Homo sapiens: one gene and its partners. The protein of the gene in region 5 interacts with the protein of the main gene of each other region in a biochemical or structural test. Each region holds a gene or a part of one and is shown on either strand. Other genes may lie near its edges. The genes, in order: SYNPO, MET, DOCK1, PKN2, NCK2, TLK1 and NTRK2.

The links.
Region 1: the proteins of NCK2 (region 5) and SYNPO form a complex in vitro, tested with the Homo sapiens proteins (one study listed by BioGRID).
Region 2: the proteins of NCK2 (region 5) and MET form a complex in vitro, tested with the Homo sapiens proteins (one large-scale study listed by BioGRID and IntAct).
Region 3: the proteins of NCK2 (region 5) and DOCK1 form a complex in vitro, tested with the Homo sapiens proteins (one study listed by BioGRID and IntAct).
Region 4: the proteins of NCK2 (region 5) and PKN2 interact in a biophysical measurement, tested with the Homo sapiens proteins (one study listed by IntAct).
Region 6: the proteins of NCK2 (region 5) and TLK1 form a complex in vitro, tested with the Homo sapiens proteins (one large-scale study listed by BioGRID).
Region 7: the proteins of NCK2 (region 5) and NTRK2 form a complex in vitro, tested with the Homo sapiens proteins (one study listed by BioGRID).

Annotation. Positions count from the first base shown.
Region 1 is NC_000005.10:150,647,160-150,650,659, reverse strand, and holds part of SYNPO (synaptopodin), read right to left. Parts: intron 2,717-3,500; coding exon of another isoform or gene 2,385-2,716; coding exon 357-2,384; coding exon of another isoform or gene 327-356; exon of another isoform or gene 1-326. UniProt on the Homo sapiens protein: Actin-associated protein that may play a role in modulating actin-based shape and motility of dendritic spines and renal podocyte foot processes.
Region 2 is NC_000007.14:116,755,696-116,759,195, reverse strand, and holds part of MET (hepatocyte growth factor receptor isoform b preproprotein), read right to left. Parts: intron 1,760-3,500; coding exon 1,657-1,759; intron 1,559-1,656; coding exon 1,422-1,558; intron 738-1,421; coding exon 576-737; intron 1-575. UniProt on the Homo sapiens protein: Receptor tyrosine kinase that transduces signals from the extracellular matrix into the cytoplasm by binding to hepatocyte growth factor/HGF ligand. Regulates many physiological processes including proliferation, scattering, morphogenesis and survival.
Region 3 is NC_000010.11:127,447,428-127,450,221, reverse strand, and holds part of DOCK1 (dedicator of cytokinesis protein 1), read right to left. Parts: coding exon 2,677-2,794; intron 1-2,676. UniProt on the Homo sapiens protein: Involved in cytoskeletal rearrangements required for phagocytosis of apoptotic cells and cell motility. Along with DOCK1, mediates CRK/CRKL regulation of epithelial and endothelial cell spreading and migration on type IV collagen.
Region 4 is NC_000001.11:88,827,273-88,830,772, forward strand, and holds part of PKN2 (serine/threonine-protein kinase N2), read left to right. Parts: intron 1-1,208; coding exon 1,209-1,351; intron 1,352-3,500. UniProt on the Homo sapiens protein: PKC-related serine/threonine-protein kinase and Rho/Rac effector protein that participates in specific signal transduction responses in the cell.
Region 5 is NC_000002.12:105,852,912-105,856,411, reverse strand, and holds part of NCK2 (cytoplasmic protein NCK2), read right to left. Parts: intron 1,365-3,500; 5' UTR 1,349-1,364; coding exon 1,123-1,348; intron 1-1,122. UniProt on the Homo sapiens protein: Adapter protein which associates with tyrosine-phosphorylated growth factor receptors or their cellular substrates. Maintains low levels of EIF2S1 phosphorylation by promoting its dephosphorylation by PP1.
Region 6 is NC_000002.12:171,045,894-171,049,393, reverse strand, and holds part of TLK1 (serine/threonine-protein kinase tousled-like 1), read left to right. Parts: intron 1-3,031; coding exon 3,032-3,220; intron 3,221-3,500. UniProt on the Homo sapiens protein: Rapidly and transiently inhibited by phosphorylation following the generation of DNA double-stranded breaks during S-phase. This is cell cycle checkpoint and ATM-pathway dependent and appears to regulate processes involved in chromatin assembly.
Region 7 is NC_000009.12:85,015,729-85,019,228, reverse strand, and holds part of NTRK2 (BDNF/NT-3 growth factors receptor isoform a precursor), read right to left. Parts: intron 1-3,500. UniProt on the Homo sapiens protein: Receptor tyrosine kinase involved in the development and the maturation of the central and the peripheral nervous systems through regulation of neuron survival, proliferation, migration, differentiation, and synapse formation and plasticity.

The DNA of each region.
Region 1 (3,500 bases), on a different chromosome or scaffold from region 5:
TCAGACTCTGCATCCCTACAGCTCACAAAGGCCAGAGGATGCCCCTCTACCGCATCAGGGCTGCCAGACAGTTCTCTCTCCATGACCCTCCTCCCCGCTCAGACATGGAGTCCGACCCCTGTTGTAGTAGGGGAGGGGCGGCTTCAGCTCAGAGAGGGGAGGCGACTCGCCCAAGGTCACAAAGCCAGCTGGTGGCCGCATCTGACCTTGAACCATGGACTCCCCATTCTCCTCACTCAGCTCTGTGCCATTTCCTGCCACATCTGCTCTCCATCTGGCCCTCAAGGAGGGGAACTTGACCGGCAGTGGGACCCCCGTGGGGTTCGTTACTTGAAGCAGAAGGAAGGCTTCCACACCTGAGCCTCGATCCCGGCGTTCCGGGTAGAGAAGGAGGGCCTGGGGGCCTGCTTGGCTCGGGGAGACCACGCCCTGGAGGGAGACACGGGGGAGATGTCACCGCCGTAAGGAGGGCTCACGGCAGTGGGCTGCAGGCTGTCCTGGCCGGGGGAGGTGTAGAGGCCCGGTGAGGAGCGCGAGGGCCGAGGCAGGGCAGGAGATGGAGGGAGAGCCCCCTTGGGCAGGTTGGGCACCAGGTCCAAGGAGCTGGGCTTGGCGGGCGAGGCAGCTCTTGGTGAGACCTTGGCAGGCTCCTTGATAGGTGAGAGGACAAAGAGCGAGGGGCGCAGCTGGTATGGCGGCTGCTTGGTGGGCTCTGGGCGCAGGACCCCGTTCTCAGGCAGGTAGCCATGGTAGAGGGAGGCAGGCGGGGTCCGGGCTGGGCTTCGGGATGCCACTCGGAAGGCCCCGGGGGCGTTAGTGGGGTATTTCCAGGAGGAAGGCAGGGACATGGTAGGTGATGGGCAGCGGGCCAGCTCTGGCGTGTGGCTTGAAGACTCGATGACATATTTCTCCATCCGTGACTGGCGGCGGGCGTAGAGCTCAGCTCCCTTCCCAGAGGCCTCGGAGAGGTTCTGGTTGGGTTTGGGCTTCGGCTTGGCCTGGATGCGGGGTGACTTGAGGCAGGAGGCCCACTCTGGTACCACCTCCTCCGCCGCCGCGGGGCTGGCCCTGTCACGAGGTGCTGGCTCCTGCTGGAAGTTGGAGGCCTCGGCCCCCAGTGCGAAGGGCTCCTCCTCCACGCCTACCTCCCCCTGGTCCCTCTGCCGCCGCTTCTCATCCGCTGTCTGTACCAGATCCAGCAAGTCTGGATTCGGGGTCACCTTGGGCTTCTCCACGAAAGTAAACATGGATTTGCGGCTGCCCCGGCGGGCCATCGACTCCTCCAGAATGCCCGTCTTGCTGGCAGGAACCGCCTGGCCCTTCAGATGAGAAGACTTGGGGTCGGAGCTGGGATACAGGACAGAATATGAGGGAGGAGACCTCACCCAGGAAGCCAGAGGGGCTGTGGACAAGGTCTCAGTGTAGGTGGGGGGTGCAGTGAAGTTCCCCAAGGGGCGTCTCTCTGAGGCCGGGCTTCGCTGCCCCATCATCCTCCTTTCCACCATGGGGCTGCGGGACATTATGTGTCTCTGTGGCCGGGGGCTCCTGTCTGGCAAACTGGGGGGCTGGGGAGCCGGGGCCTTCTCCCCAAAATGTCGTCTCTCTAGCATGGGGCTCCTCTCCATCTGGCTGGTGCCCCCTGGCGCCTGGATCCCAAAAGGCCTGGCCGTCCTGTTGACCACTGATGGGGGCTTGGCCAGTGTGAAGTGGACCTCACTGTAGACCTTGGTGGGCGTGGTGGCAGCTGCTCGCCCAGACATCTCTTGATCTGCTGACACCACTAGGGTGTTGGGCTGGATGTCAATGAGCAGGGAGCTGGACATGAAATCTGAGGCTGGGGGCCTGGAGCTGGGGATGAGCGTAGCTTCTCTGGAGAAGGTGCTGGTGGTGGTAGCTGGAGTTGATACCTTGTCAATTAGGAGTGTGCTGCATCTCACCTCCTCAGCCGGTGCCTGGGGTTGCCCATCAGCACACAGGGTGCTGGGTTTGGAAGCAGGCCCTGTGCCATTAGATGGGAGTTGGGCCTCTGAGGAATTCTGTTGGATGCTAGAAAGTGGCAGGCTCTGTGGGACAACAGTTGCCGGTGGGTTCTGATTGACATCGGTGGCTGGCGGATTGTGGCTGCTGTTAGAAGTTGGTGTGGTGAGCGTGGCACTGGGCGAGGCAAGGTTTTGGTTGACATCTGCAGCTGGGCTGTGGACCTCAGCTGGAGGTGGGGCCGGTGAGGACTGCTGGGCCTCTCGGTTTTGGGACAGGTGCAGCCCATTGGCTGTCAGCAGTGCTGCATTCTCCTTTAGATAAACCACCAGTGGTACCTCTTCCTCCTCACTGGCCACCTTCTCCAGGTGCCGCAGCAAGCTAGCCTCCTCTGAGTACCCCTCCATGCTGTGGCCAGGGACCCCTCTGTCGGGGCTCTGGGGACTGGGGTGCCGTGGAGGGCCTGGCTCCGGCAGCGAGGTGGAACTCAGGCTGAGCCCCGGTGCATGGCCTGGGAGGCTTGAAGGGAGCACTCTGAGGGACTCCTGGCTGGGCTTCTGTCCCCTCTGGCCGTGGCTCTCCAAGGTGAACTCGTTCACCCTCTGCCGGCGCCTGTTGAAGAGCTGGACGCCACGGGAATTGGAGCTGGGAGGGGTGGTCAGCTGGGCTGCAATCTGCTGGCTCCGCGCCTTGGCTTCTTTCAGATCCTTCTCCGTGAGGCTAGTGCTCCGGCCCAACGCTACAGGGAGGGACAAAAGCCCAGTTAGCAAACAGGAATGCAGTGACACAGGGGTGCACGGACAAACAGGCAGACAGAGATGGTCGCCTCGGCCCTTCCTACACAGGATCTCTTCTGGAATTTAATCGTCACTCACTGTTTCTTAGAATTAGCTCACTTCGTAATCAGCCCTGACCTACCTTTCATGGCCCAACTCAAATGCCACCACGTCTACGCCACCCTGATTATCCTCTCAGGATTAACTGGTCCCTGATTTGGAATCCCCCTGACAGTTGCTGATATGGCACTTTACCAAACTGAGTACGAACACCTCACCCTAGAAGTCCCACCGTGTCCCCAGTTCCTCCCCACTGCCTTCTCCTCTCTCACTAGGCTCTGCCACACTGGCTTGCTTTCTCTTCCTTGAAAATGCCAAGTATGTTCCTGCCCCAGGGCCTTTGGACTTGCTGCTCGCTCTCCTTGGAATAATCTTTTCCCAGGTAGCAGTCCATGCTGGTTCCTATCTTGCCACTCAAGTCTCAGCTGGAATGTCCCCTCTCTGGAGGCACCTTTCCTTCTCCTATCCCATCTGTTTTGTTTTCTCCATAGCATTCACCAAGTTGAAATGATCTTTATGTTTCCCTGTCTATTATCTGTCTCCTCACCTACAGCATAGCTCCAAGGGGCAATGACCTTGCCTGACTTTTTTTTTTTTTTTTTGAGAAGGAGTTTTTGCTCTTGTCGCCCAGGCTAGAGCGCAGCGGCGCAATCTCGGCTCACTGCAACCTCCGCCTCCCAGGTTCAA
Region 2 (3,500 bases), on a different chromosome or scaffold from region 5:
AAGCTTAAGAAATGCATTTGTATTTTATTCACCGAATTACACAAAATAAATATTTCACCTCTGAAAAAAATACAAAGAAAACCGAACTTAACTATTGTTGCTAGACTGATAGAATTAACGGAAACAAGGCAGATTGAACTGGGTCCAATGAGATATCAATTCAAAGAGAGTCTGGCATAAAGAAAAGCTGTGTGTAAAGCAGGCAGGACAAAAACATATCTAGAGAATGGAAGAAAAAAGGTAATTCCACTTCTGGGCACTAAGGTTAGTATAGAATTGATATGTACATAATGTAAGTGCATGTATACTACAATGCCACATTAAACTATTTTGCTATACTCTGTTTAAATGTAATAGAACAGGATAAGATACTTCTTGGAATGAACTAGCATTGATAAGTCAAACTACACTCAGAACCTGAATATAGTTTTCTCTCCTGAATTGGAAAGAAGCCTTCAAAAGCAACATAACAGCATCAAAGCCAGAGATAAAACTGCAATTCCTCTTGACTATTCTACAGCAAAATCATCCTTGTATTCATTGTTTTCTTATACCCATCAGAAGCTTCTACTTACCTAATAAAAGATTTGGTTGGATGAATTTCATAGACAATGGGATCTTCACGGTAACTGAAGATGCTTGTCTCTCGGTTGGCTAAGTCAATTTTCAATTTAACAGCAAACTCAGTTGAAATGGTTTGGGCTGGGGTATAACATTCAAGAATACTGTTTGACACACTGAACAAAAAAAATTAAGGAAGTGAATTTTAGCTATTAGAGATACACATATTTTAGAATTATATCCACAAATCAAAAGGATATAACTCAATGGTTCCTAAGTGGGAATTTCCTGAGTGGAAGCCTTTTCTAGTGTAGGCTGTTTAATCTGACTGGATCTCAAACTTACCTTTGTTGTGGACAAGCTATCCTTGACTGGAAAACATTTGAGATTTGAAAAAAAAACCTTTAAAGTACTTTTGGTACTTGATTAAACTGAGCTCTTCCAACTCTAAGAAGCAGAAACATAACTGTCTTCCAGACCCAATTTTCCCCATTTCTTCCTTCCCCAGAGTGACTTAGTCTAATTACAAATCTTGATGAAAATGTTTATTTTAAATTATTATCAATGACCAGACTCTCACAGCTCATAGTATAGCTAAGATCCTAAGCTATAACAATAAAGAGGGTGGATGGGAAGACAAAACTGAAAAGTAGGATTGCTAAAAAACAAGAGAAAGGAAGAAAAATCAGCAAAAGGAGTAGATGAATTTTGGAAGGAGGAAGTTTTGTCAGTAGGAGAGTAAACAAATAAACATCTTGATTTTTCTTCTCCACACACACACACAAAACAATCTGCTTAATTTTTAAGGTACAGATATTAATTCAAATTGACAGATGCAACAAAAAATAAATTTACAACACCTTTTTAAAGTACATGTTTTTCCACCAATTGAAATGTGTCTAGAATTCCCACTGTTTAGGTAATTTCCAGTTAAAGTAAGTAAAGTGCCACCAGCCATAGGACCGTATTTCGGCGAAATACTTGTTATTACAGGATCCTGGAGGGGAGATAAAAACAAAACAAAGTAACTTGTTCATCTTATAATTTAAATAGATTAAGTAAAAATCAAACATGATAGGATAGAATCTTCCTTACCACATAGGAGAATGTACTGTATTGTGTTGTCCCGTGGCCATTTGAAATAATTATGGACATATTGAAATGCTTATTCATGGCAGGACCAACTGTGCATTTCAATCTGGAAAAAAAACCCAAAGTTTAATACATGACAAATCCAAGGAATTTTCTGGTTAGGTTGTTTTATAGGAAGTGACATTAACTCTAAATGGTGAGCTGACTGCTTTGAATAGCAAGCAGAGTTTCAAGATAAGCATTAAGGCCAAAAATTATATAATCCTATTTCTATACTATGATAAACTTAACTTTTATTTTTATGTAAAAAGAGACAGGATCTTGCTCTGTCACCCAGGCTGGAGGGCAGTGGCATAGTCATAGCTCACTGCAGCCTTGAACTCCTGGGCTCAAGGGATCCTCTGGACTCAGGAGTTGGAACTAGAGGTGCATGCCACGGCATCTGGTTAATTAAAAAAAAATTTTTTTTTTTTTTTGGTAGAGATGGAGTCTCACTACGTTGCCCAGGCTGGTCTTGAATTCCTGGGCTCAGGTGATCCTCCTGCCTTGGTCTGCCAAAGTGCTGGGATCACAGGCGTAAGCCACTGCACCCTGCTTATACTAAACTTTACATTAATGGTACTATAGCACTTATACAGACAAACAGGAAATATCAGACCTTATCCATAAAGACCTCACCAGTTGAATAGTGCATAATAATCTAAGTTTGGATAATATTAATATTTGGGGATAATCTTTGGTCCACTTCAGATGCATATGAAACAATGGGCTAACTACAAATAGGCCAATCTCTTCATTAAAGTATGTCAACAGGTACATTTCTGTGGTTATACTTGTACATGCTTATTTAAATTACTTAAATGATAATGAAATTGTGATGGCTTTCCATAGAATTATTTCTGAATGAATAATCATATAGTTCTGAGAAAATTTAAATACAATTTGATTTATTAAATAACTTTTTAAAGGAGAGAATGAATTATGCTTTACTTTTACAGGTCCTGATTTATATGCAATGATTAAGAGTTTTGGAGATTTTACAAGGGAGATTTCTAGAAAAAATTTGTTTTGCCATTCAGCTAACAAATATTACCTTCATTAGTGTTTTGGTCTCAGTAAAATGGATAGATTCGGACCTTTGTGTAACCCTGAAATGAATTCTATTAGATATAAAATAACCACCTGATAGAATGGGTTCAATCATAAAGATTCAACCATAAAACTTTAAATATTTGAGTGTTGTTATTATGTGATAATGAATAATTTCTGGATTCTCTGATGATTATGGAATTCAAAGCTTGTAGAAGGGTACATGTAGAATACAGTAGAACTAGCACGGGTCTTGGATCAGAAGATGATCAGAGCTGAGCTGAAGGCTTGTTCAGCTCTTACTCTCTGGATTACCTCTGTGAAGCCACACTTCATCTCTCTGAACTTCAGGTACCTCTTTTATATTATAGGAATGATACTGCTCCCTCCCAGGACCGTGGGGATGGTTCAGTGAGATACAGCCCATATATTGCAGTGCCAGTAAATATAAGCTGAATATAAATTTTAACTCATCTAAAAAAGTCTCAAACACGTGATTCAGCTGCCTCACTACATTTCTGAGGTTTAGAAAGTGAATTTAAAAGAGAGGATCCATGCTGAGCTGTTTACTGATTTCTGTAGAAAAAGCCTTTGGAGACTCTACATTTGAAGACTCCAAGGATGAAGTGATCCCAACTAGTGCTACTCTTGCAAATCTACTCAGACAACACCTGAAGACTTGTCGCATAAATGGTTGAGAAACTCCCATTTCTGGCCTCTTCTCTTCACCTAGGCCATGTCACCTTTCTCTCTCTTCA
Region 3 (2,794 bases), on a different chromosome or scaffold from region 5:
AAAAATGACCTAATGCTTAACACAGAGAGGAGAATAAATGTGGAAAAGTAAAGCTGATATAAAGATGTCCTATGAGTGTATGACCTTATATTAAGGAAGGTAAAACAACAATTAAGTCTTTTTAAGGTTGGTTAGAACCGTTAAAAGAGACATCTATTTTGAGGTCTGATGAAACTGTTTGTTTACATGTGAAAGCCACACTCACTGATAGGCCAATGAGGAGCAGGTAAGGACCACACTAACACAGCCTGATACCAACACAGCGCTGCAAATGACCTCTATGCCAAGTATGAGCATGTCAAAAGTTTATCACCATTAAGCAAAATGATTAATGGTGATAAACTCAGTAAGCTCAGATTACTGACAGGAAGAGCCATTTGGAAAGAAATGACAGCTTAGTGGCAACAACTAAAGACAGAGTTGCCTACAAGCCTGAGGCTGATCAATGAGAGTGACAGGAGGATATTGATCACACCCCCATCATGGCAGATGGATGATCATTATCCTAGAACAGCTCTCAGGGCCTGTGCAAAGGGAGGCACCCCAGGAAATGCAACCGCTTCTGCCTAATGATGACATACTAACCACCAGCGTGTCACCTGAGCATGCACTCAGGCTGCAAGTAAATTAAACAAGAAACAAAGACCAAAGACACCTGGGTCATTAATCTAATTGAATTCACACGCCCTTTATCAATTGAGAGAGAGCTAATCCATGTTATCCCTTACTTAATCAACTGTATGTGGCATCAGTAACCCACAATGGTGTATCCAAGAAATTGAGACAATAAAATGTTACCCCGGAGTTGATTTGTAACAAGAAGAGGAATTGGCTGTAATTCTAAGTTTAGAATTTTCAGTTTACTAGTGTAGGGAGACTAGGGGGAACATTCCTGCCTTTGCAATAAAATAGAGAGAAGAGAATGTGACCAATTAACGAAGCTGTTAGGGAAACAATACTCCAAGCAACCCAATATTCTTGTTAGACCCCCCCGAATCTCCTTTTACTCTCACAAGTAGTTAGAAATGGCCGGGGAAGGTCCGGCTTCCATTTCTGTGGTGCAACAAACCATTCCAGCCTGCCAGAAAGCCCTCTTCACAGGGGAACCTGGTGCCTCCTCCAGGACCGGTTCCCCATCGAGGCGTCTCTAGGGAGAGGGAGCCTGTTTAAATGGCACTTGGGTCTCAGAAGAGCAATCTGCCTCTTTGATATTAAAGATGACTGCTTGTTTAGTTTTCTGATACAAAGGGAATGATGAAATACGTATGCTGTACACAAACACCCTCTCTCTTCCACTCCTCTCATAAGGGATGTAATGACCTTGTGGAACACTCCGTCAACGAGTCTCCATTAAAAAAAAAGAAAAAGAAATGGCACGTGGGATTTATATTGTTTATTAAAGAAAAATAAAAAAAAAAACCATGTCTCACCATTATGAAAAAAACAGAGCCACCCAACAATCTCATGTTTTCAATGTTCTACAGGAGTTTTGCGGCCATATAATTACTTCACTAAGGCTGGATAGCAAAAAAAATACGGCCAGCTGTCCACATATGAAGAGGGATATTTTACCCTTCAGACACCACTGATTTAATTGTCAAAGGCTGTGAATAACATGGCCTGGGGAGGCCTGAGCCTAGAAGCAGAAGTTCCCGCCGTGGCTGAGTCAATCGCTCGCCCGCCTCCATCCCACTCATGCTGCCCTCCACACATGCCTGGGCCCGACATGAGGATGGGGCTGGGACCCGCAGGGATGAGTGACGCCTGACAGCATCCTTGAGAACCAGGAGAGGAACGGGGTGGATCTCAAAAGAATGTTTCTAGAACTGTCAACTGGTAACTGAGGTGCTTGTTTAAATGGCTTTTCATGACTTTGACTAATATTTGTACGGGCAGGCAGGCCCAGGGGCTGTTTGGCACAAGGCACTTTGGGTGGCATGAATGACTAAAACAGCTGCTGGGGGGTACCAGCTTCAGGGACTCACGCTGAAGAGGGGTTCCAGCAGGTTGCTTAGGCTTACAAAGGCCAGTGCTGCTGGAGGAAGCCAGGTCAGCACCCCCGAACTAGCACTGGGGAGGGTGCCCAGGGGTGGGGGCACAGTGAGGATGACTGTGCCCAGGAGCCAAACCTGGCTGTCCTCTGCAGTCTCCGTAAGGTGAGTGCCTGTCACCACCCAGGAGCTCCCAGCACCAGGTGAGGCTGCCTGGAGGGATGTTTGGAGACAAGCTTCTCCAGGGCCAAGCAGGTGTACAACAGGTGCCTGCCATACAGGGCGATATTGGCCAACCTCTTTAAAAAGTCAGACCTCTTGATAGAAAAGCTACTTCTCAAAAATCAAAATGTCATTAGAATTGCATCTCCAGTGGAATGATCTCCATGGTGATGATAACCGATGACAACCTTGGAATGTCTATCCTCTTCCTCGTTCTGAGGCATGATATCAAAATGTGCTTTTTGATGCAGTTATTGATAATGACGCAGAGCCACAGATCTTACCCACTGGAGTCCTTACTGCTTCGATATCTTTTTGCAAAATCAAACCCGGGCCCATCATACATGGTTTTCCTCATGTGCTCACTAGCCCGAAGTAAACCTGCTAGTATCTGGAATGAGGGACTCGTCCTACTTTGTGGAGGCGAAGCAATGAAAGCCTGTGTTTCAGATTGCCGACTTACCCTCTGGTGTGGAGGGGGAGGTGGAGGTGTTGGCGAGCCCAGCAAGTCCTGGTTTTCCATCAAATTCCCGTAATCTGCCACGCTGCCTTTGAGAGGCAGAGGGGGTGGGACATCGGCC
Region 4 (3,500 bases), on a different chromosome or scaffold from region 5:
GGCTGAGTATCCCTTATCCAAAATGCTTAGAATGAGAAATGTTTTGAATTTCAGATTTATTTGGATTTTGGAATATTTGCATATATAAATAATGACATATCTTGAGGCCAAGACCCAAGTCTAAACACAAAATTTATATATGTTTCATATATACCTTATACATAGCCTGAAGGTAAATTTATATAATATTTTTAATAATTTTGTGCATGAAACTAATCTTAAGTACTTGCGGAATTCTCTATGGCATCATGTTGGTGCCCAAAAAGTTTCAGATTTTGAAGCATTTTAGATTTTGGATTTTTGGATTAGGGATGTTCAACCTGTACTCTCCCTTCCCTCCCCTTCCCTTCCCTTCCCTTCCCTTCCCTCCCCTCTTCTCCCCTCCCCTCCCGTCCCCTCCTCTCTCTCTCTCTATATATAATATATATTGAGATATATATATGTTTTTTGTTTGTTTGTTTTTTGAGACAGAGTTTTGCTCTTGTCACCCAGGCTGGAGTGCAATGACACAATCTCAGCTCACTGCAGCCTCCGTCTCCCAAGTTCAAGCAGTTCTCCTGCCTCAACCTCCCGAGTAGCTGAGATTACAGGCGGGAGCCACCATGCCCGGCTAATTTTTGTTTTTGTTTTTTTTGTAGAGACGGGTTTCATCATGTTGGCCAGGCTGGTCTTGAACTCCTGACCTCAGGTGATCCACCCGCCTCGGCCTCCCAAAGTGCCGTGATTACAAGCATGAGCCACTGCACACGGCCCTATCTCTCTGTATTATATGACACATTTGGTCAGCTTCTGATTATCCAAGGGTTTGCTTTTTGGTATTTTTGAAACTTATTTTTTTTAGAATGTTGATTTTATAATGAAGTAAATAAACTTATTTAAGATTGAATTGGAAAGATAATGGAACTTCACAATCAGTTCATTTTGTTATAATTTCTTAGCTCCCTTGTAATGACAAGAAGAAAAAGTAACTGAAAAGAAACATGGATATCTTATTTCTATTTACCCATTAATTAGACAGTATAGTTGCTATTGCAGTTTTTGCTATACCAGTCCTTACTGTTTTCTTGAAATGTCTTAGATATGTCTGAATTTGTTCACCATGCACAAATGTGCAACTTTAATTTTGCCTCCCAAAGATAGCTTTGATTTTTTTTTTATGCTAGATTTGTTTTCTTTGCTAACAAATGTTTACATTTTATCTTTTCCAGGAATGGGATATGGAGATAGAACAAGCACATTTTGTGGCACTCCTGAATTTCTTGCCCCAGAAGTATTAACAGAAACTTCTTATACAAGGGCTGTAGATTGGTGGGGCCTTGGCGTGCTTATATATGAAATGCTTGTTGGTGAGGTAAGCAGTGTGAAATAGGTAAGAGAACAGAGGAAGGATGATTGAAATAATAAAGCATGTCATTTATAAAACCACCTAATACTGTCTTCAGTATGAGTGGAATTTAAGTTTTATAAATATTTATAGTATACTAGTAGTCAGCTATCTTTCTGTAATACCTTCAATAAAGATTTTTATGTGGTTTGTGGAATGCACTATCAGTGCTTTGAAAATAGTTCCTTGTATTTCAGTATTGTACTTTTATTATGTTTTCTGATTTTAAGACATAGTCATTTTATAGGGAATGGAATAACAGAAAGACTAATAAAAGGAATGTACTCTGTACCTGTAAAGAAAAGCCCACTATAGATTGGTCAGAAATAAATGTTACCTTCGACTTCCTCCAGACTTCCGTCTGAGCAACACACTCTGCATCCTTGCTTCACCGGGAAACTACTGAAGTTCCTGGGGAAGCAAAGTAGAATTTCGTAAGAACAAAATGGATGGAGAGAGGAGAAAACCTATGGTAGCTGTGAAGGCCCTGATGCCATGTATGTCAAATTGATATCATCCGATGGCCATGAATTTATTGTAAAAACAGAACGTACATTAACATCAGCACGATAAAAGCCATGTTGAGTGGCCCAGGTCAATTTGCTGAGAATGAAACCAATGAGGTCAATTTGAGAGAGATACCTTCACATGTGCTATCAAAAGTATTCGCTACACCAACAGCTCCACCGAGATTCCTGAATTCCCAGTTGCACCTGAAGTTGCTATAGAACTGCTGATGGCTGTGAACTTCCTAGATTGTTAAATAAAATATAATTTTAAAAAAATGAAAGAAGTGTTACCTTAAAAAATGGTAGAGTTGAAAAAATTCGCATTTTTTCCTACTGTTTTCTGTAGATTAACTTAAATTTCTGAGGATAATTGAGTTGTACATAGAAATTATTACTATTAGGAAACAGTGAGTTATGTTAAGGCAATAATAGGAGACTAATAATTTATTATGTTATAAATTGTTAGAAATGTTGAATTGGGATGAAATTGGGAAAGAGTAAATCTTTTAATAAGTAATTGAAGATTACTTGAAGGGACTTGAACTGGAGATGCAAGAAAAATTATTTTAAGGGATTGGTTCATTATTCTGCAGTTTCCCCATGCCAGCAACCTCCCTTGTACACTTGTAAGTTTGAAGAAGTTAGTGCTGAATGAACAAATTATCAAATTGAATATCAGAAATTTCTAAAGTTTTGTTCTATGCTTGTCATTTATTGGCACTTACCCCAAACAAATGGTTTTAGTTTCGCCGGATGGATAACCCCTTTTGGTATGTCAATTTGAAGTGGATTCCTTGGAAAAGGAGGAGAAGTATGGCTAATTAAAATTTATCATGTGCTAAGCACTGTACTGTATGCCTTAAATATTAGTTCATTTAATTTTGCAACAGCCTTTAATAAGCTCAGTACTGATCTTCTGCCCATTTTCGGAGGTGTAAATAGAGACACAAAGAGATTAATGACTTGCTTAAAGTCACACAGCTCTCATATGGTGGAGCTGGAATTTTAACCTTGTCACTCTGGCTCCAGAGCATATCTAAAGCATTATGCTTTGCTGCTCCAGGACAGGATCTTCAATTCATCCAGCCTTGTTTCTGTTCTTAAGACTAGTGGTCCAGATCTGAATTTTTCACCTCTATTTAGAAAAGCTGTTGTGCAGTGTTTAGGTTGGAAAGATTTATTTTAGCTCCAGTCCACAGTGGCTTTTACTTTCTGAGAGTGCCAGAAGTTCTCATAAAATAGTTAATCTGCTGTAAGCTCTGGCATACTTGAACTCCTCCCCACCCCCTTCCTTTATTTTAACAGTAACATTTTGGAGGGTTTTTTTGGTTTTGTTTCATGTAGTATTCAAGTAAGTATGAGATTTATGAGATTCAATTATGTGCTTGCTTAAAATTTACTCTCCATATTAGAGATGACATGTGCAAAATATGAGTTTATTACAAAATACTGTAGAATTAATCCAGTTGAATCTACTCCCTCCTATTATAAAGCCACTGGAGGGTTTGGCAGAAAACAAGGAAGCTCCTGTTTCATGTTTTTTAAAAGAGCTAATTGATTGAGCTCTTAATTACCTAGAAGATAAAAGACAGTGGATCTGGCTATTT
Region 5 (3,500 bases):
TCATTTCACTAGCAAACCCTTAAGTGATAACCTGCAGTCTTGGATACAGACAACATTATACTCATAAGAAGGTAACAACGTTTTAAATGTCAGCTCAGATGAGTCATTCTTCAAAAAAGTCCTCGCAATTATTTTCTCAGGTAATCTGAGGCAGTAAATACTGTAAGTCAGTTCCGTGTGCATGTAAAGGCAAGACTGGATACTGTTAACTTTGTGTAACTCCAGGAGGGCACTGCCCATAACCTGACAACACCTGGGAAAACAAGAGGCACATGGGGAGCCGGGCACGGTGGCTCACGCCTGTAATCCCAGCACTTTGGGAGGCCAAGGTGGGCGGATCACAAGGTCAAGAGATCGAGATCATCCTGGCTAACACAGTGAAACCCCATCTCTACTAAAAATACAAAAAATTAGCCGGATGTGGTGGTGGGTGCCTGTAGTCCCAGCTACTCGGGAGGCTGAGGCAGGAGAATGGTGTGAACCCAGGAGGTGGAGCTTGCAGTGAGGCAAGATCGTGCCACTGCACTCCAGCCTGGGCAAGAGTGTGAGACTCCGTCTCAAAAAAAAAAAAAAAAAAAAGAGGCACATGGGGACAACAGTATGGCTGAACTAGGCCCCCACCATGGAGCGGCCTCTGATGTCACAAAGCTGCCCTCTTAGCTAACGGCACCCAGGACTGTGGTGTGATGTAGCATCCATTTCAGAGAGGGAAAAAGTGCTTTGGCTGTCCCCTGCTCTAGGCACGTAGGCCAAATGGACAGGATTGTATAAGAGAGAAAGAACTTCATGTCACGACACTGGCAGAGCTGGGTAGACTTAGAGGTGAGAATTCCAAGTCAGGCTCCTCTAACGTTTTGATACAAGGAGATACCTGTGCAGGGGTCCCAAGCACACAAAGTGTCTCCATACACAGGACCCCAAACTCCAGAATCTCCAGGAAATGAAAAACATCCTCTTTCTCCATCTTCATCTCTTAATTCTTAGATTATTAAAAAAGACAACTAGGAAGATATTAACTTTTAAAACAGACTTTTTTTTTTTTGAAACAGCAAACTAACTAGAAAGACGAACAGTGTCCCTTGAAATGCACAAGGCTTCCTCTCTCGAGGGTGAAACACTCACCTAGTGTGTCCTTCAGGTTCTTCACGAGGGAGCCCTTCTTCAGGCTGTTCTTCCGCTCCACGTAGTTGGACGGTACATAGCCCGTCCTGTTGGCCGCGTTCCTCACCCGCCACCACGTCTTGGAGTCGTCCAGCAACCACAGCCGCTCGTTCTTCTTGATGTCCAGCTCCTGGTCCTGCTGGGCGGTGTAGTCCCACTTGGCTATCACAATAACTTCTTCTGTCATCTTTCATGGAGTCCTTCTGCCAGCAAAACATTTGGAGATGCTCATTAGAGAACTACCCGGACACTTCATCCTTTGCACCAACTTGAAAAATTAGGCACTGACAGCTTTTATTACAACTCTGCAACCAGTTTTCTCCTGGGTCTTGAAATGCTCAACTTTAAAATGACCTTCTTTCAACAAGCTTTAGTATTTGGTTTAGAAACAGCAACCTTATAAAACAAATCTTATGTTACTGTTTGCTGTACATGGGGAAATCTGACCCTCTAACAAAAACAAACTTGAAAAAAATTCTAAATAACATTATAATTAAATGAGTCCATTTCATTAAGTAACACTGCCTCCTGATAACTGTTAGGTTGACACTCATTTTCTCAGGATATGCTGTGTCTTATAAACATATTTAATAAGTCAACATAACCAAACTACTCCTATAAATTAAAATTAACATTGTACTAATAACAAGGTGGTATCCTGGATTGGATCATGAAACAGAAAAAGAAAATTAATGGAAATACTGGTGAAATCAAAATAAAGTCTAAGAATAATAATAACAATAAATAATTGTCAATCTCTTAGTTTGGACAACACACCAGTAAGATGTTACTGCATTCACATAAGATGTTAACACAATGAGAAACCAGGTAAAGGGTATAAGGGAAAGTTCTGTACTATACTGGGAACTTTTTTATAAATATAAAATTATTCCCCAAAACTTTCATTCACACAAAAACCTGTGCAGAGACGTCTGTAGCAGCTTTATTCATAATTGCTCAAATTTGGAAGCAAGCAAAATGTCCTTTAGTAGGACACAGTTTATAGATACATAAACTGTGGTATATCCAGACAATGAAATATTATTCAGTACCAAAAAGAAATGAGCTATCAAGCCATGAAAAGACATAGCGGAACCTTAAACGCATATTGCTAGGTGAAAGAAGCCAATCTGAAAAGGCTACACACTGTGTGATTCTGACAGTTTATCCTTAACCAAACTTCAGCCAAATTCCTTTGAATCTTCTTCCCTTTAAGGCCTCAACTTTTGCACTTCCGTGTCCATCTCTGCATTGCCCAATTTTTGCAAGACTCTCCTGCTAAGGTGCTCTAGCTGGAATCCTCCACTCTCAACATCTGATCAGGTTCCTCATCCTCTACCATCCCCCAGGTGACAGCTGATCACCCTGTCCTGCCTTCAGAAGAATCCTGTTCGGTCAGTTTAGCCAGAATCCCCACGCTCCACCCCTGATGTTTCCTCTTAGTAATTTTCCACCCACCAACTCCCTTATTTTGCTCCTTGCCTATAAATGCCCACTCTTCCTTGTTGTCTTAATATTAGGAGTCAAACCCAATCTCTTTCTTGACTGCAAAACCCTACTGTAGTAGTCCCTCTGAATAAAATCTGCCTTACTGTTCTTCAACAAATGTCATGAATAAGTTTTTTCTTTAAAACGGTATGACATACTGGAAAAGACAAATCTATGGAGACAGTAAGAAAATAAGTGCTTGCCTGGGGCAAGAGGGAAGGGAGGGATGCAAGGGTGAAGCACAGGATTTTTAAGGCTGTGAAACTACTCTGCTCAATACTATAATGGCGGACACCTGTCATTATACATTTGTTAAAATCTATAAAATGTGCAACATCAAAAGTGAACATAACATTTTTCCAAAATGAAAAGTTTATCAAAACAACAATAAATAGATGCGTGTATTATATATCCAGTAAAGTCAATTTTGGAAGTAATAAATAGCAAAAGTGTGGCTGAATAAATAAAATAAATAATCAACTATTTTAGCAACTCTCTACTTCTTAGGTAGAAGATGAACCAATATTCTTTAAGCAGAAAAATTCAATATTCAGTCCTTAAACTAACTAGACATTTCTCCAAACTAGGGAGAAATGAATGATGAAAACACTCAGGACTAAAATCCCCTTCCTCCCTGACAGAGAAGTTCTCATTATTGTATAGGGATGACTTTAGGATTACAGGGGACCTATGCACATTGACTCCATGGAAGCATAAATACCATTTTTAAATAACATATTTTCTACTAGATGCTAAAAAAATTTTTTTATAAATAATACACGTTTCTTTCATGAATTAACTTCCAAATTTAAAGATAACAAACCTTTTGGGAAGGAGGAAAGCCTCTGCAT
Region 6 (3,500 bases), about 65 Mb from region 5:
AAACTTCTCTTTTGCCTCAGATATAATAACTGATTTATCAGTTAAACTGAACATGTGGCTTTAGCGTTTCTGAGGTAAACTCTATTTATTATTTATTTATTTTAATTTCAACTTTTATTTTAGTTTCAGGGAATATATATGCAGGTTGTTACAGGGGTATATTGCTTGATACTGAGGTTCGGGGTACAATTGAACCCACCACTCAGGTAGTGAGCATAGTACCCAGTAGTTTTTCAATCCTTGCCCCTGTCTCTGCCTCCTTCATCTTTGTAGCCCCCAGTTTCTATCATTCTCATCTTTATGTCCATGTGTCTCCAATGTTTAGCTCCCACTTATACATGAGAACATGCGGTGTTTGGTTTTCTGTTACTTTTCAGATCAAACTTTTAAACAGAGGAATTATAGTTACCATATTTTCTTGAGTTCAGATGGTGGTAGAAAAGGATTTATTGGCTGTTTATGTGTTAAGGAGTGCTAAATATGCTACTCCGTTTTTGGTGGAAAATTTTTTTAAACCTGAAAATGGGGAGTAATGCCAGCATGAACATCAGCTTTTCCAGAGTATCCAGTTATTTGAAATAGAGGCAGAACTTACTTTCACATGGTATCACACCAACATTGCTGTTCAAACACTGCCTCCTAGGACTTGCCACAGAATGGCCTTCTCTCTCAGCAGATTTATTCAACTTTTCTTCAACATATCTGTGCTAGTTATACCACAGTGAAACAAAGGATAATGTCCTTGTGATATTAGAGAGTTTGGGTTTCAATTCTGCAGATAATGGGACTTGTTAAAGGTTTACATATAGTGTACGTGATCGGAATGATATCTACAGTGATAGTTGTAGAATAATAACTGATGGTAATGTGAAAATATTATTAGAGGATGAATGTTATTGGTAGTTAAGATGGAGGGGTATCCAGATGAAAGGTGATTAAAGCATGAACTAACATATCAACAGTAAAGTGGAAAGCAGGAGAAGATAATTTTTTAGTGTTTATGAGCAAGAGGCTCTGCTACTAAACCCAGACCGGCAATTGTCCTGCAATGAATAAAAGAGACAGTTATATAATTAATATGAATGTTCTGAAATATAAATTCTACTAGTAGTTCCAATTTCTCCTCTTAACTGTCAGAAAAGAGGCCACAGGTGCAGTGGCTCACGCCTGTAATCCCAGCACTTTGGGAGGCCGAGTTGGGAGGATCACCTGAGGTTGAGAGTTTGATACCAACCTGGCCAGCAGGGTGAAACCCTGTCTCTACTGAAAATACAAAAATTAGCCAGGCATGGTGGTGGGCGCCTGTAATCCCAGCTACTCGGGAGGCTGAGGCACGAGAATTGCTTGAACCTGGGAGGTGGAGGCTGCAGTGAGCCGAGATCATGCCACTGCACTCCAGCCTGGGCGACAGAGTGAGAGTCTGTCTCAAAAAATAATGTCAAAAAAGAAAATAATTACTTGTATGTCCTGACTTTCACTAATAAGCATTTATTGAGGACCTACTGTGTGTATATCAAGCCGTTTATAATTGGTGATATAATCCAGAGTGGTTAGAAGATGAGAAGAGAAATAAATAAAAGTAATAATATTAATCTCTAAACTGTATAGTCATCCCTGAGTAATCAGCTATTAATATCTATTCCAGTAATTCTTTACTTTCCATTAATATTTTAATCATTAGGATTATTATTGCTTATTTGCATTTATACCATCTTGATTGTGCCCTAAAATAGCCTTAAGATTTACTTATTAAAAATTGAAATTTATTCCTGCTTCTAAATGAAAACCGGATTAAAGTCTTGTTCTCACTTTGCTATTCTTGAGATTTTTCTCTACCCTTTCAATCTTCTACCTAGATTCTTCTTGATTTTTTTCACTCCTATCATATTCTGCTACTTTATCACTAAAACCATAGGGAAGGGGATGTGTGTAAGGTCAATTCTGCATTAGCAAAGTAGGAGCCCTTTAGTTGATGTCAGTGGTTGGGGAGAGGAGGGCATGAAATATTTGACTTGCTCTAAGTATTGTAACCATGTAGGATTTGAAAATTTTTTATTGGCATAGTGAGGTGACCTGAAAGAGAACATGGTTACTGTTAGAATAAGCTTAAGGTGTTGTATGATAAGTTGGTTTTAAAAAGCTTCACTGTTAACTACTTTATGCTCTGCTCAAACTGCTAAAATATCTAATCTACATTTTAATAATAGACATGGTATCTATTCGTTTTTAGAATTAGGGAGCTATTTGCAAAATTGTTTCAGTTTCTTGAATGGGAAGCATTGATTTTATTTTTGTTACTTTCCCATTTTTCAGAGCCATGCTAATTTTTCTTGCTATTTTCTTGTCTTTTTCCCCTTAAATTATCAAAAAAATTTTTCTCATAAATTTCTTATATTAAGGTTAATTTGTCTCATTTCAAAACACCAACTTCCCATTACCAATTTTTTTTAACAAAAGTAGATTTAGAAAATAACTCTCTTCACATTAAATTCATATTTGCCTTTTGTAAATTTGTTTGCAAATACTGTGGTGAGATGCATGTGTAACATATACCCCATACTTTAATAGTTTGGGGTATTGTTTTATCTCATTTCATTCAAGAAACATTTACTGAGCAAAGGTAAGTGATGATCACTACACTAGGTACTAGGGATACAACAGTATAAATACTGTATAAATAGACACCATCTGTGTTCTTAGGGAGTGATGTCATCTAACCGGACACTTTCTGATAAAGTATCTATAGGAATAATATTTATTAGAAAGAGTGAGGTGGGGAGATAGAAGATCCCATGAAATTATATATGGCAACACATCTTTCCCTAATCTAGGGGTTTAGAGAATACCTCACTTAAAAAAATTCTTTCAAATGAGACCTGAAGGATAAGTACAAATTGGTTCACAAGAGTGGAACCAAAAGGTTACGAATGTATATTTTATGGTTTTTCATGTTTTTTATGCATTTTTTCCAAGTTTAGCCTTGAAAAGTAATGGAAGGTTAATATGGTTTTATTTGTTTATTTTTACACAGGCAACAAGAATGGGTGAATCAGCAAAGGGAAGATATTGAAAGGCAAAGGAAACTTCTAGCCAAACGCAAACCTCCCACAGCTAATAATTCTCAGGCACCCTCTACCAATTCTGAACCAAAACAAAGGAAAAACAAAGCAGTCAATGGAGCAGAGAATGATCCCTTTGTTAGACCAAATTTACCACAACTGTAAGCCTCCATTTAAAATTTTTCTTTTTTAAAATTGTTGCCAGTGAGCGTGAATGTTACTAATGGATGTTATTTATAATTAATACTTAGATAGCAAAAATGATTAAGACCAGGAAGGAAGGCAGTATTGAAAATTTAGCTCTAAATTAATAGCCCCAAATATCTGAATTCTACCGTTTTAAGCAGAGATTTAACAATTCTCTTTTAAAACAGAGACCTAGGTAGCTAAGAGGTTACCAGAATTCACCCTTCTGTGTCTGAATCAGTTAGGAATCAATTA
Region 7 (3,500 bases), on a different chromosome or scaffold from region 5:
TCTGGGTCCTGAGTTTATAGAGTAATGGTGCATAGAGTTTCTGCCCAATTCTAATCTCAATATCCAGTTAGTATTTATTAAAGGAAGAAAATAAACTAATAGTGTCTGGAAAATGTTCCCCTACCCCAGAACCCAAGAGGCTGAAATGTCAGAGATGTCTAACATGCTTGGTGATTCCCAGTGATGTTCTTAGCACCAAAGAAAGCACAAGAGTACAAAAGGGGGAGGATATTTTATTTCATTCTTCTCTGTATGATGCATCCAAATTTGACAAATAGGGACAAAAACTTCTGGCTCAGGTGACCCATCTCTACTATTCAGTTTTTAATAAACAAAAAGCTCATAAAGGCTAAGTTGGCTTCCATTGGCCTTAGATTTCCTCACTCTTCCTTCAGCAGTGACAGGTCATCAGTGTTCAATGGACAGAGACTTCTCTTATGGTCTTACTTGATGTCTGAAGGTGGTGGCAACAGTCACCCTCAGGGTCGATACTCAAACTGCAATCAGTGTGGCACAGACACTGACCAACCAGAAAGGATGTGGGTAGTAAATATGGGTGCAGCTATTTCAGCACATTTCTGGTTTGGCAAATATCTGCCCTGTTTATAACTCTGTGACCCCCAGGTGCCCAGGACTTTGGGAGAGGGAATCTGCTGACATACACAGAGGACCTGTTGTTTCCAGATGCTTTGGAGGACTTGCGGTATGAGGGTAGAATGATCTCACCAGGTCTGGGCAGCCCACATGGCAATGCCAAGGAGAGGACTGCTTTGGGCCATGCAGGGATGCTGCTGCCACCTTGCAGAGGTGGGCAAATGACCCTTCTGTTTATGTGCCAGAAAAGGCTGGGCACTTTGGCACACACATTTTCAAAGATTGTTAACCCCTAGAATAAAGCATCTCTAGTCTCCTTGCCATTCTCTGAAGCCATAATTGGAATGTACCATATGGTTTAGAAAACATCTATACACGTCTGGTGTCATTTAATTGTGTGAGCAAACCATAAAGAACTCAGGACTCTTGGTGGCACCTCTAGCCTACAGATGATGAAATTGCTCCTGGCAATTATGTGACCTTGCCTGGGTGGTGCAGATAGGACAGAGGTCTACACATTTTAACAGACCATTTTCATCCACACAGCAAGCATTTTATGGGAACCTCTTAAGATACAAACATGGCATTGTTTTGCTTACCTAACATGCAAAAAAAAATGGGTAAGATGAAATCAAAGGGAAAAATAATCCCTTCTGCTATACATCTTATTTTTAACCTTACCTCTCTCATTTTAACCTTCTTCCTACCCTATAAAGAAGAGCTCATTTCATCATTGTTCATGTCAGCATAGTGCTATGGTGCAACCAGCTCCACTGTGCATTTTGGTGTTGCTGTTCTTTCTCGTTAGATAAAATAGAACCCCAGTGGTCAAAGTGGGCTTAGAGAAGTAGGAATCTTAAAATAAAGACTGGGACCTGGTCTTCTTGTTATGCTGTCTGAGTTGTGTTATTTTAACAACCCCAGAAGTTCCTAGATCAAATATGTCAAATGTACTGTAAATTGCAACCCTCTTCAATTCAAGGAGATCCATCAGGGACTGAGGCTTATTAAAGTATGTGAGGAGTTTGGCAGGAAAGAACAAACTTAACTTTGGTAAATTAAACTATTTGAATGTATGTTTGTGGGAGAGATAACCATTTATATATGTCTCAGGTAAGACAGCTAAAAATACACTTTGAGGTGTGTTAATCTAGCAAGATCTCAGGATTTCCATATCTACCTGGATATTCACAGCTGCAATGCAGTGGATGACAATAGCTGGTTTCCAATCGCTCACTTACCTGTTTCCTACTGGGGTAACCTGGACTAGTTGCCAAATCTCTCTGTGGCCAAGGTTTAATAATTATATGTAAGTAATAATGTATACCTCCTAATGTTGTTGGGAGGTATTTACTCAAGCAGGCATTTGTGAAAGTGTTTTCTAAGTCTTAAAGTATTAATGCTTTTGAGGTGTGGCTTTCTTCTCTGGAACCTTCACTCTCTTACTTACTCCAGAAGCAGCCATTCTGGAGACATTAAGAAGAATCATCATATGTCACTCTCCTGAACTCTTCATTTGGCCTTAACCAAGTGGCTCCTTTGATAGCAGCACCCACTTTTTTTGGTCATTAGCAATGCAAGATAGAAAACCTGATACTGGTTCTCTATCCTGAATTGCTAATAGCCAAGAAAAAGCTTCTGTTTCCTTTAAAGAAGAGAGAGAGAACAAAAGATTCACGTTTTGATTTACATGTTTTCTCATCTGATCATTTATTTTCTGCTTGCTGTCTCTTTGGGGCAGATTTTTCACTCTAATTCTTTCAAGAATCCCTTCTGGGATTTCACGCATGCTGTTATAAATAATGCTTTCCTTGTTCAGATGTCAAATGGGTGAGTGGTGGGACAATCTAATAAAAGTTCAGACAGGGTTCACAAGTTTTCTAAGCCCATTTAGTACATTTCTGAACATTTCTTTTGCAACCCTTTCTCAGAATTTTGAAGCATGTCACAAAAGTAGACCCTCCCCCCAAAAAAGTCACTGTTGTTACAAATTACTGTCACATTCTAGTTATAGTCACTTGATGGTTTTTGGACCACACAAACAACACACTGTGCAGCAACAAACACAATGAGACATTTGTTTTGTATCGTACTACTTGGCAACTTGCCCTCATGCCCTTGCTTAAATATTTGTGAGATGGAATGTGATCCCAGGAATGACACTGAGAGTCAGAATTCCTGCTCTCAGCCTGATATGCTGTGGGGCCTCAGGGGCTCTCCAGTAATTAAGTTGAATGGGGTCTCATGGTCTTCACTAAACTCACCAGGTTGACCTGGTGCAAGATGAGAAACCCAGTTATCTGGAGAGTTGACTTGGACTTGCAATTTTTATTTTCCTCAACCCAAGAGACTGGAGTTCTAGTTCTTGTGCTGCTGCTATTAACCAGCTTGAGCAGGTACCCTCAGGTCTGGCTTCTGTCTTTATTGGTAAAATGTGAAGAGTTAGGGCAGCCCTTGGTTACTTCCAGCACAAAAACGCCGTGGTTCCGGAATCACCCACCACCTCAGTGCCACCGTAATCATCCATCAACACTCAGTCTTCAACATTTACGAAGAATTTCTATTCAATTATCTCACTTGAACCCAACAGTTATGCTCTACAGCAGACATGGACTTGCCTGGATAGTGCAAGTAATGCCCCTAAAAGTCAGTCAGTTTAAGTAGTTTACCTAAAGCCACATACCAAACCTTTCCCCATTGGACATCCTGTATTCATTAGGATGGACCACTCTGCTTTTCTGCTTTCTCCAGTCTCCACACACACTCTGTGTTCAGCCAGCAAGCTTAGGTGGCTTCCTACCCAGGGCCAAGTTACTCATGCCTCTTAGAAAGTTTGATCTTCTTCCCTTTCTCCCTACTTCCCAAAGGTCTCCTTTATGAAGGCAAGCTCAAGTCCCACCACTTCA